2 linked regions of the Homo sapiens genome follow. The protein of the gene in region 2 purifies or fractionates together with the protein of the main gene of each other region. This does not show direct contact. Each region holds a gene or a part of one and is shown on either strand. Other genes may lie near its edges. The genes, in order: GPR143 and MLANA.

Region 1 (3,823 bases), on a different chromosome or scaffold from region 2:
AAAAAAGGCCCGTCATGGTGGGATGCACATGTGGTCCCAGCTACTCACCAGGCTGAGGCAGGAGGACCATTTGAGCCCAGGAATTCCAGGCTAGAGTGAGCTACGATCCAGCCTGGGTGACAGCCAAGACCCTGTCTCTAAAAAAGTAAGGTGTACCCAAACATCTTTTGAGGGTTAGTGAATAATACTTGCATATCCTTTAGCCTTTAGAAGGGAAGTGGATGAGGTTGCGAGCAAATAAGCAGAAGTCAGGAAAAGGCTGGGTGATCGGGACCCCTTACTGAAAAATAAGAAATTTCAATGCCCATGGGATAGGGCTTTTATTAAGCTCAAAGGAGTGATAAATGCTGAAAATTCTAAGGCACCGTACAGAAGAAAGGCATTGTTTTTGTTGGCAGTGGCTTGATAATGAGAAGATGTCTTGAGCTTTTTAGTGTTCACAGTTGTCGTTTAGTAGTGTATTACATAGTGTGTGTTTAGTGGTATATTACATGGTATGTGTTTAGTAGTATATTACGTAGCATTTGTTTAGTGGTGTATCGCATGGTGTGTGTTGCATATTATATGGTGTGATTTTAGTAGTGTATTGCACAGTGTGTGTTTAGTGGTGTATGGCATGTTTACCAGTGAGCACTACTACATAGTATGTAGCTTGGTGTTGTTTACAGTTCTCCCCTTTATATTACCTAGCATACTTTTTTTTTTCTCAGATGGAGTCTCACTCTGTCGCCCAGGCTGGAGTGCAGTGGTACAGTCTTGGCTCACTGCAACCTCCACCTCCCAGGTTCAAGCGATTCTTGTGCCTCAGCCTCCTGAGCAGCTGGGATTATAGGTGCCCACCACCGTGCCTGGCTAATTTTTGTATTTTTAGTAGAGATGTGGTTTCCCCATGTTGGCTAGGCTGGTCTTAAACTCCTGACCTCAGGTGATCCACCCACCTCAGCCTCCCAAAGTGCTGGGATTACAGGCGTGAGCCACCATGCCAGGCTCTTTACTTTTCTTTTCTTTTTGACACAGGGTCTCACTCTGTCGCCCAGGCTGGAGTACAGTGGTGCGATCTCGACTCACTGCAACCTCCGCCTTCCGGGCTCAAGCGATTCTCCCACCTCAGCCTCCTGAGTAGCTGGGACCACAGGCGCGTGCCACCACCTCCAGCTAATTATTGTATTTTTGTAGAGATGGGGTTTTGCCAGGCTGGTGTCATCTCCTGGGCTCAAGTGATCCGCCGGCCTTGGCCTCCCAAAGTGCTGGGATTACAGGCGTGAGCACCGCGCTCAGACCCTAGTGTACTTTTAAACAACGGATATTGCATTACCTAACAAAGAACCATAATATGTACCATGAGTGTGCATACTGTTTTGAGGATATTAGACATTTGGGTCTAATAGCAAGAGAAACTCACAAAGAATAAATGTTAAAGGCAAATTATTGAGAATTAATTTGTGAAAATTTTAAATGTTGTGTTTAAAAAAGAATGAAGGAACTATATATTCAAACTTCTAAATTGTGCTTTTTGAAAAATTCTTTTTTATGTGAGGAATAACTAATATGGCCACTGAAAATGCAGCCGAGAAATCCAGATTGCTAGTCACATATTGCAAGTAAACCAACAGACAAACAAAATAGGGATGAGACTGTGGCCAACTATGGTTTGCGTTAAAGTGCCTGCGTTTGTTTTGCTACCATAAGTTATTTTCTGAGTTTCAGGCCAGGCGCGGTGGCTCACGCCTGTCATCCCACTTTGGGAGACCAAGGCGGACAGATCACTTGAGGTCAGGAGTTTGAGACCAGCCTGGCCAACATGGTGATACCCCGTCTCTACTAAAAATACAAAAATTAGCTGGGCGTGGTTGTGGGTGCCTGTAATCCCAGCCACTCGGGAGGCTGAGGCAGGAGAATTACTTAAACCTGGGAGGCGGAATTTGCAGTGAGCAGGGTTTTTACCACTGTACTGCAGCCTGGGTGACAGAGCCAGACTCCGTCTCAAAAAAAAAGATAAATAAAAAATAAAAATAAAAAAAAGTTATTTTATGAGTTTCAATCTTCTTTTTCTCTCTCTGCACACACAAATATGTATGTTTTTTCTTCCTTTCTTCCTTTTCCCTCCTTGTCTTTTTCCCTCCCTCTCTCCCTCCCTCCTTTCCTTCCTTCCTTCTTCCTTCCTCTCTTCCTATCTCTATCTATTATGTATCTATCATTTTTCCAAAGCAAGAAGTCAGCTTTATATTTGATTAGGATCAGATACAAAGTATTATCCAATTCTCTCTTAGGTATGGTGATCCGGTCCACCGTGTGGTTAGGATTCCCAAATTTTGTTGACAGCGTCTCGGATATGAACCACACGGAAATTTGGCCTGCTGCTTTCTGCGTGGGGAGTGCGGTGAGTCCACCCCCTCTGCATGCCCTCTCCTCCCTACTTATGCTCCTCAAATCGCAGCAGCAGCAAACCCTGGGAGTCTGTTAGAAATGCAGGTTCTCACGTCCTGCCCCATCCTGCTGATCAGGAACCCAGCCCTCTCTGTTTTAACAAAACCCTCCAGGGGATGCTGCCCAGACACTCAAGTGTTGTTTCTCCCACCTCTTCACAAATGCATCCTCCGCTTACATGGGGCCACGAGCAAAACCAGCTGGCACAGAAAAAGTTATCAATCCATTGGATGCATTTTGTATAAATATATACATAAATATATTAAATAAAACATACAAGCCGGGCACGGCAGCCCACACCTGTAATCCCAGCACTTTGGGAGGCCAAGGCAGGTGGATCACTTGAGGCCAGGAGTTCCAGACCACCCTGGTCAACAGGGTGAAACCCCGTCTCTACTAAAAATACAAAAATTAGCTCGGCGTGGTGGTGTGTGCCCATGGTCCTAGCTACTCAGGTGGCTAAGACAGGAGAATTGCTTCAACCCGGGAGGCGGAGGTTGCAGTGAGCCAAGATCGCGCCACTGCACTCCAGCCTGGGTGACAGAGTGAAACTCCATCTTCAAAGAAAAAAAATAAAACCACATAATTATATATAAACAAATTATTGAAAAAGTAAATAGATATCATATATACACAGACACACATACACATGTATGTTATGCTCCATCCGTCACGGTGGTGCTCAGGTGAGTGATTTGAAGCACATTCCCTGATGCTGTGTTGATTGCCCTGTGCTGGAGCAGAATTGCCAGTTTCCTTGCTTCCCTGTCCTCAGTGGCTTCCTAACTGCATCTATGGAGGCTCTGTCTCAGCCCGCAGTGGCGAGACATCTTGACCTTGTGTCGTTTCTAACACTGGAGTCCCCTTACTCCATCTTCTCTTTGGAAGGACTGCCTGAGTCCCTCCTCCCCGTACTCATTCTTCCTCAGAACAAGAGCTTCTATCTAGTTCAAAGCCCCCTTGAGCCTGCACCTCAGTTTAAATGACATATCTTGGAACTTCATCCTCCCTGCATACAAGTGGAGCAGAAGGCATAGTTCCTTAGTCAAATCTGAATGCCTACACCTATCCCAGGCCACACCCTCCTTGGTCCCAGGAACTGTGCCCACTTGTGTCCCGAGAGCTGTCACGTGCGGCTTCCTGACGTCAGAGGAAGCCAGTGTCTACCCTGCCGTCTCAAGGATGGGCTGGGCTTCTTGTACCTGTTTCCAGACATTTTGATGCAGGCTCTTCCCGATTGCAGATGTGGATCCAGCTGTTGTACAGTGCCTGCTTCTGGTGGCTGTTTTGCTATGCAGTGGATGCTTATCTGGTGATCCGGAGATCGGCAGGACTGAGGTATTCACCGAGGAAATGGGATTTCTGCCCTAGTTCTATTTTAGAGGGAAGATAAGAG
Region 2 (3,823 bases):
TGTATGTGTCTTTATATTTAAAGAGGGTTTCTTGTAGAGAACACATAGTTGGGTCTTGTTTGTTGATCCACTCTGACAATCTGTCTTTTAATTGGTGCATTTAGACCATTGATATTCAAAGTAGTTATTGATATAGTTGGATTGATATCTACCATATTGTTACTGTTTTCTACCTGTTGCCTCTGTTCTTTGTTTCTATTTTTGTCTTTACTCTTTTTCTGCCTTTTGTGATTTTCACTGGACATTTTATATGATTCCATTTTCTCTCCTTTCTTGGCATATCAGTTATACTTTTTTCTTTTTGAGACAGAATCTCACTCACTCTGTCGCCCAGGCTGGAGTGCAGTGGCACGATCTCAGCTCACTGCCACCTCTGCCTCCCAGGTTCAAGTGATTCTCCTGTCTCAGCCTCCTGAGTAGCTGAGATTAAAGGTGCATACTACTATGCTCATCTAATTTTTGTATTTTTAGTAGAGACGGGGTTTCATCATGTTGGCCAGGCTGGAACTCGACCTCAAGTGATCCACCCACTTGGCCTCCCAAAGTGCTAGGATTACAGGCGTGAGCCACCGCGCCCAGTCCAGTTACACTTCTTTTTTTTTTTTTTTGAGACGGAGTCTCACTCCGTTGCCCAGGCTGGAGTGCAGTGGTATGATCTGGGCTCACTGCAAGCTCTGCCTCCTGGGTTCATGCCATTCTCCTGACTCAGCCTCCCAAGTAGCTGGGACTACAGGTGCCCGCTACCATGCCTGGCTAATTTTTTGTATTTATAGTAGAGATGTCATTTCACTGTGTTAGCCAGGATGGTCTCAATCTCCTGACCTCGTGATCCACACGCCTTGACCTCCCAAAGTGCTGCGATTACAGGTGTGAGCCACCGTGCCCGGCCTTATACTTCTTTTTTACTTTTTTTCAGTGGTTTCCCTAGAGTTTGCAACATACATTTACAACTAATTCAAATCCACTTTCAAATAACACTATACCATTTCATAGGCATTATGAGTATCTTAAAATAATCCTAATTCCTTCCTCCTGTAAACTAAAAACAAAATCCTAAATCCTCCAAACAACTGAATGGACCCCCTCTTCACCAAGGGGACCCCAGGGAAACCTGAAAAACTGAGTGTTGGCCATGACGGGAAGGGAGGTGAGAGATGCCTCATTATACTCCCTCCCTTTTAGAGTTTTAGGTACAACTGACCAGCATTAATTTTAAAATAGAGATTACAGGACTGACAGAATGAACTCTTTGTGGCAATATCAAATTAGGAACAAGACAATGCAAGGAAAGGGTTAAATCATGCCCTTCAAACCATAAAAAAATTTTTTTTTAATTAACCCCATATAATGTGGTATACTTTCCAAACTGACTCTGGTATAGCATCACATGACAGATTGCAGACTCCCTTACCTTAAGCATTCCTTTATACTGACTTCAAGTCTTAAGACAGAGCTGAACTCTTTCAACCAGCTGCTAACTAAAGAATACCTAAAACCCACCTGTGACTTGTAAGTCTCTGCTTTGCCATGTCCTGCCTTTTCAGGCTGACCCAATGTATACCTTCCGTGTATTGATTTATGATTTTTACCTACAATTCCTGTCTTCCTGAAACATATAAAACCAAATCATAACCCAACCACCTCAGGCACACTTTCTCAGGACCTCTTGAGACTATTCTCCCGGCCATGGTCATTCATATCGGCACAGAATAAACCTCTTTAAAATATTTTGCAGTTTTTTTCTTTCTGTTAACATTCCTTTCCCTTGTATCATTGCTGTTATTAATTTCAAGTATATATAAGCATACCTAATTAAATACATTGTTGCTATTATTCATTTTTGAACAAACTATTATCTGTTAAATCAACTAAGAATAAGACAAATATGTTGGGTGCAGTGGTGCATGCCTATAGTCTCAGCTACTCAGAGGCTGAGGCAGGAGGATTGCTTGAGCTCAGGAGTTTAAGACCAGCCTAGGCAACTTAGCAAGATCATGTCTCTTAAAAAAAAAAAAAGAAAGAAAGAAAAACAAAGTTTTAGGAGGCTGAGGCAGGAGTATCACTTGAACCCAGGACGCAGAGGTTGCAGTGAGCCGAGATCGTGCCATTATACTCCAGCCTGGGCAACAGAGTGAGACTCTGTCTCAAAAAAAAAAAAAGAAAAGAAAAGAAAAGAAAAAAAAAGTTTTTATTTTACCTTCACTTATTCCTTCTTGGATGTTCTTCCTTTATGTAGGTACAAGGTTCTGACCTATGTTATTTTCTTTTTCTCTAAAGAACTTCAAAAGTTTCCTGCAAGGCAGGTCTACTGGCAATGAATTCCCTCAATTTTTGCTTGACAAAGTCTTTATTTCTGCTTCACTATTGATGGATAATTTCACAAGAGTGTTCCTTTTGTAGATTCACTCTTCTTATCCTTCCCTTCAGAAATATTCTTTGACCAACTATTGGGTCCCAGGTACTGCACTAGAGCTTTACTTCTAGTTAATTCCCACAGCAATTCTGAGAGGTAGGTAGGTATTATATTCCTAGATGCAAACTCAGAATTCAGAAGGTAAAGTGATGAGACTGAAGGCACACAGCAAGTAAGTGGCAGAACCTAGATTAAAACTCATTCTTAAAACTTTGGCTTCCTTCTCTTTTCTTTAATGGATTCAGTTACTTCTTCTCACCCACTCACCTTTATCAATTTACATTTCAGGATAAAAGTCTTCATGTTGGCACTCAATGTGCCTTAACAAGAAGATGCCCACAAGAAGGGTTTGATCATCGGGACAGCAAAGTGTCTCTTCAAGAGAAAAACTGTGAACCTGTGGTAGGTTAAGATCCTTCATAAGGGTATTTTCATGAATGGCTGTTTTTAACTCAAGTGAATACAATTATTTCCATTTAAAAAGCAAGGACAATGTGAATGTACTCATTGCCACTGAACTATATACACCTAAAAATGGTTAAAATGGCAACTTTTATGTGTATTTTATGAGAATAAAAAATAAATAATAATAAAAAACAAGGGAAGTACAGATATTTTCTTAATTGTGTTGTCACATACCCAGTGTTTCCAGGGTCAATAATGAGAGCCCTACATGTAAGATTCAAAGGAAGAATTTAGTCCTGGATACAATATTCTTTTATGTTTTTAGTTATATTTGCCTTTTTAATGGATGCAGATATATACAGAGGGAAGGGATAAAGTACCTATTATTTATTGTATAGAGCTGTGCTGTCTGATGGCTTAGCCACTAGTCACATGGTGCTATTGAACACTTAAAACACAGGAGTTTGAAATAAGATGTATTATAATACATATCATATTTCAAAAATATTAGTATGTAGAAAAGAAGATAAATGGTTCATTAATGATTTTTATATTGATTCACCTTGAAATAAATATTCTGAAAATATTAGGTTAAACAAAATATTTTAAGATTAATTTTACATGTTTCTTCTTTTAAATGTAGCTACTAGAAATTTTAAAATTACATATGGCTGGGCATGGTGGCTCACACCTGTAATCCCAGCACTTCGGGAGGCCGAGGTGGGTGGATCACCTGATCTCAGGAGCTCGAGACCAGCCTGGCAAACATGGTGAAATCCTATCTTTACTAAAAATACAAAAATTAGCCAAGCGTGGTGGTGCATGCCTGTAATCCCAGCTACTTGGGACGCTGAGGCAGGAGAATCACTTGAACCCGGGAGGTGGAGGTTGCAGTGAGCCGAGATAGTGCCACTGCACTCCAGCCTGGGAGACAAGAGCAAAACTCCATCTCAAAAATAAATAAATAAAATAAAATTACATAAGTGGCTTGTACCATATTTCTAT

Evidence for each region.
Region 1: the proteins of MLANA (region 2) and GPR143 purify together in Homo sapiens (co-immunoprecipitation; one study listed by IntAct). This does not show direct contact.

The regions. Positions count from the first base shown.
Region 1 is NC_000023.11:9,759,274-9,763,096, reverse strand, and holds part of GPR143 (G-protein coupled receptor 143), read left to right. Parts: intron 1-2,270; coding exon 2,271-2,380; intron 2,381-3,670; coding exon 3,671-3,765; intron 3,766-3,823. UniProt on the Homo sapiens protein: Receptor for tyrosine, L-DOPA and dopamine.
Region 2 is NC_000009.12:5,904,184-5,908,006, forward strand, and holds part of MLANA (melanoma antigen recognized by T-cells 1), read left to right. Parts: intron 1-2,701; coding exon 2,702-2,815; intron 2,816-3,823. UniProt on the Homo sapiens protein: Involved in melanosome biogenesis by ensuring the stability of GPR143. Plays a vital role in the expression, stability, trafficking, and processing of melanocyte protein PMEL, which is critical to the formation of stage II melanosomes.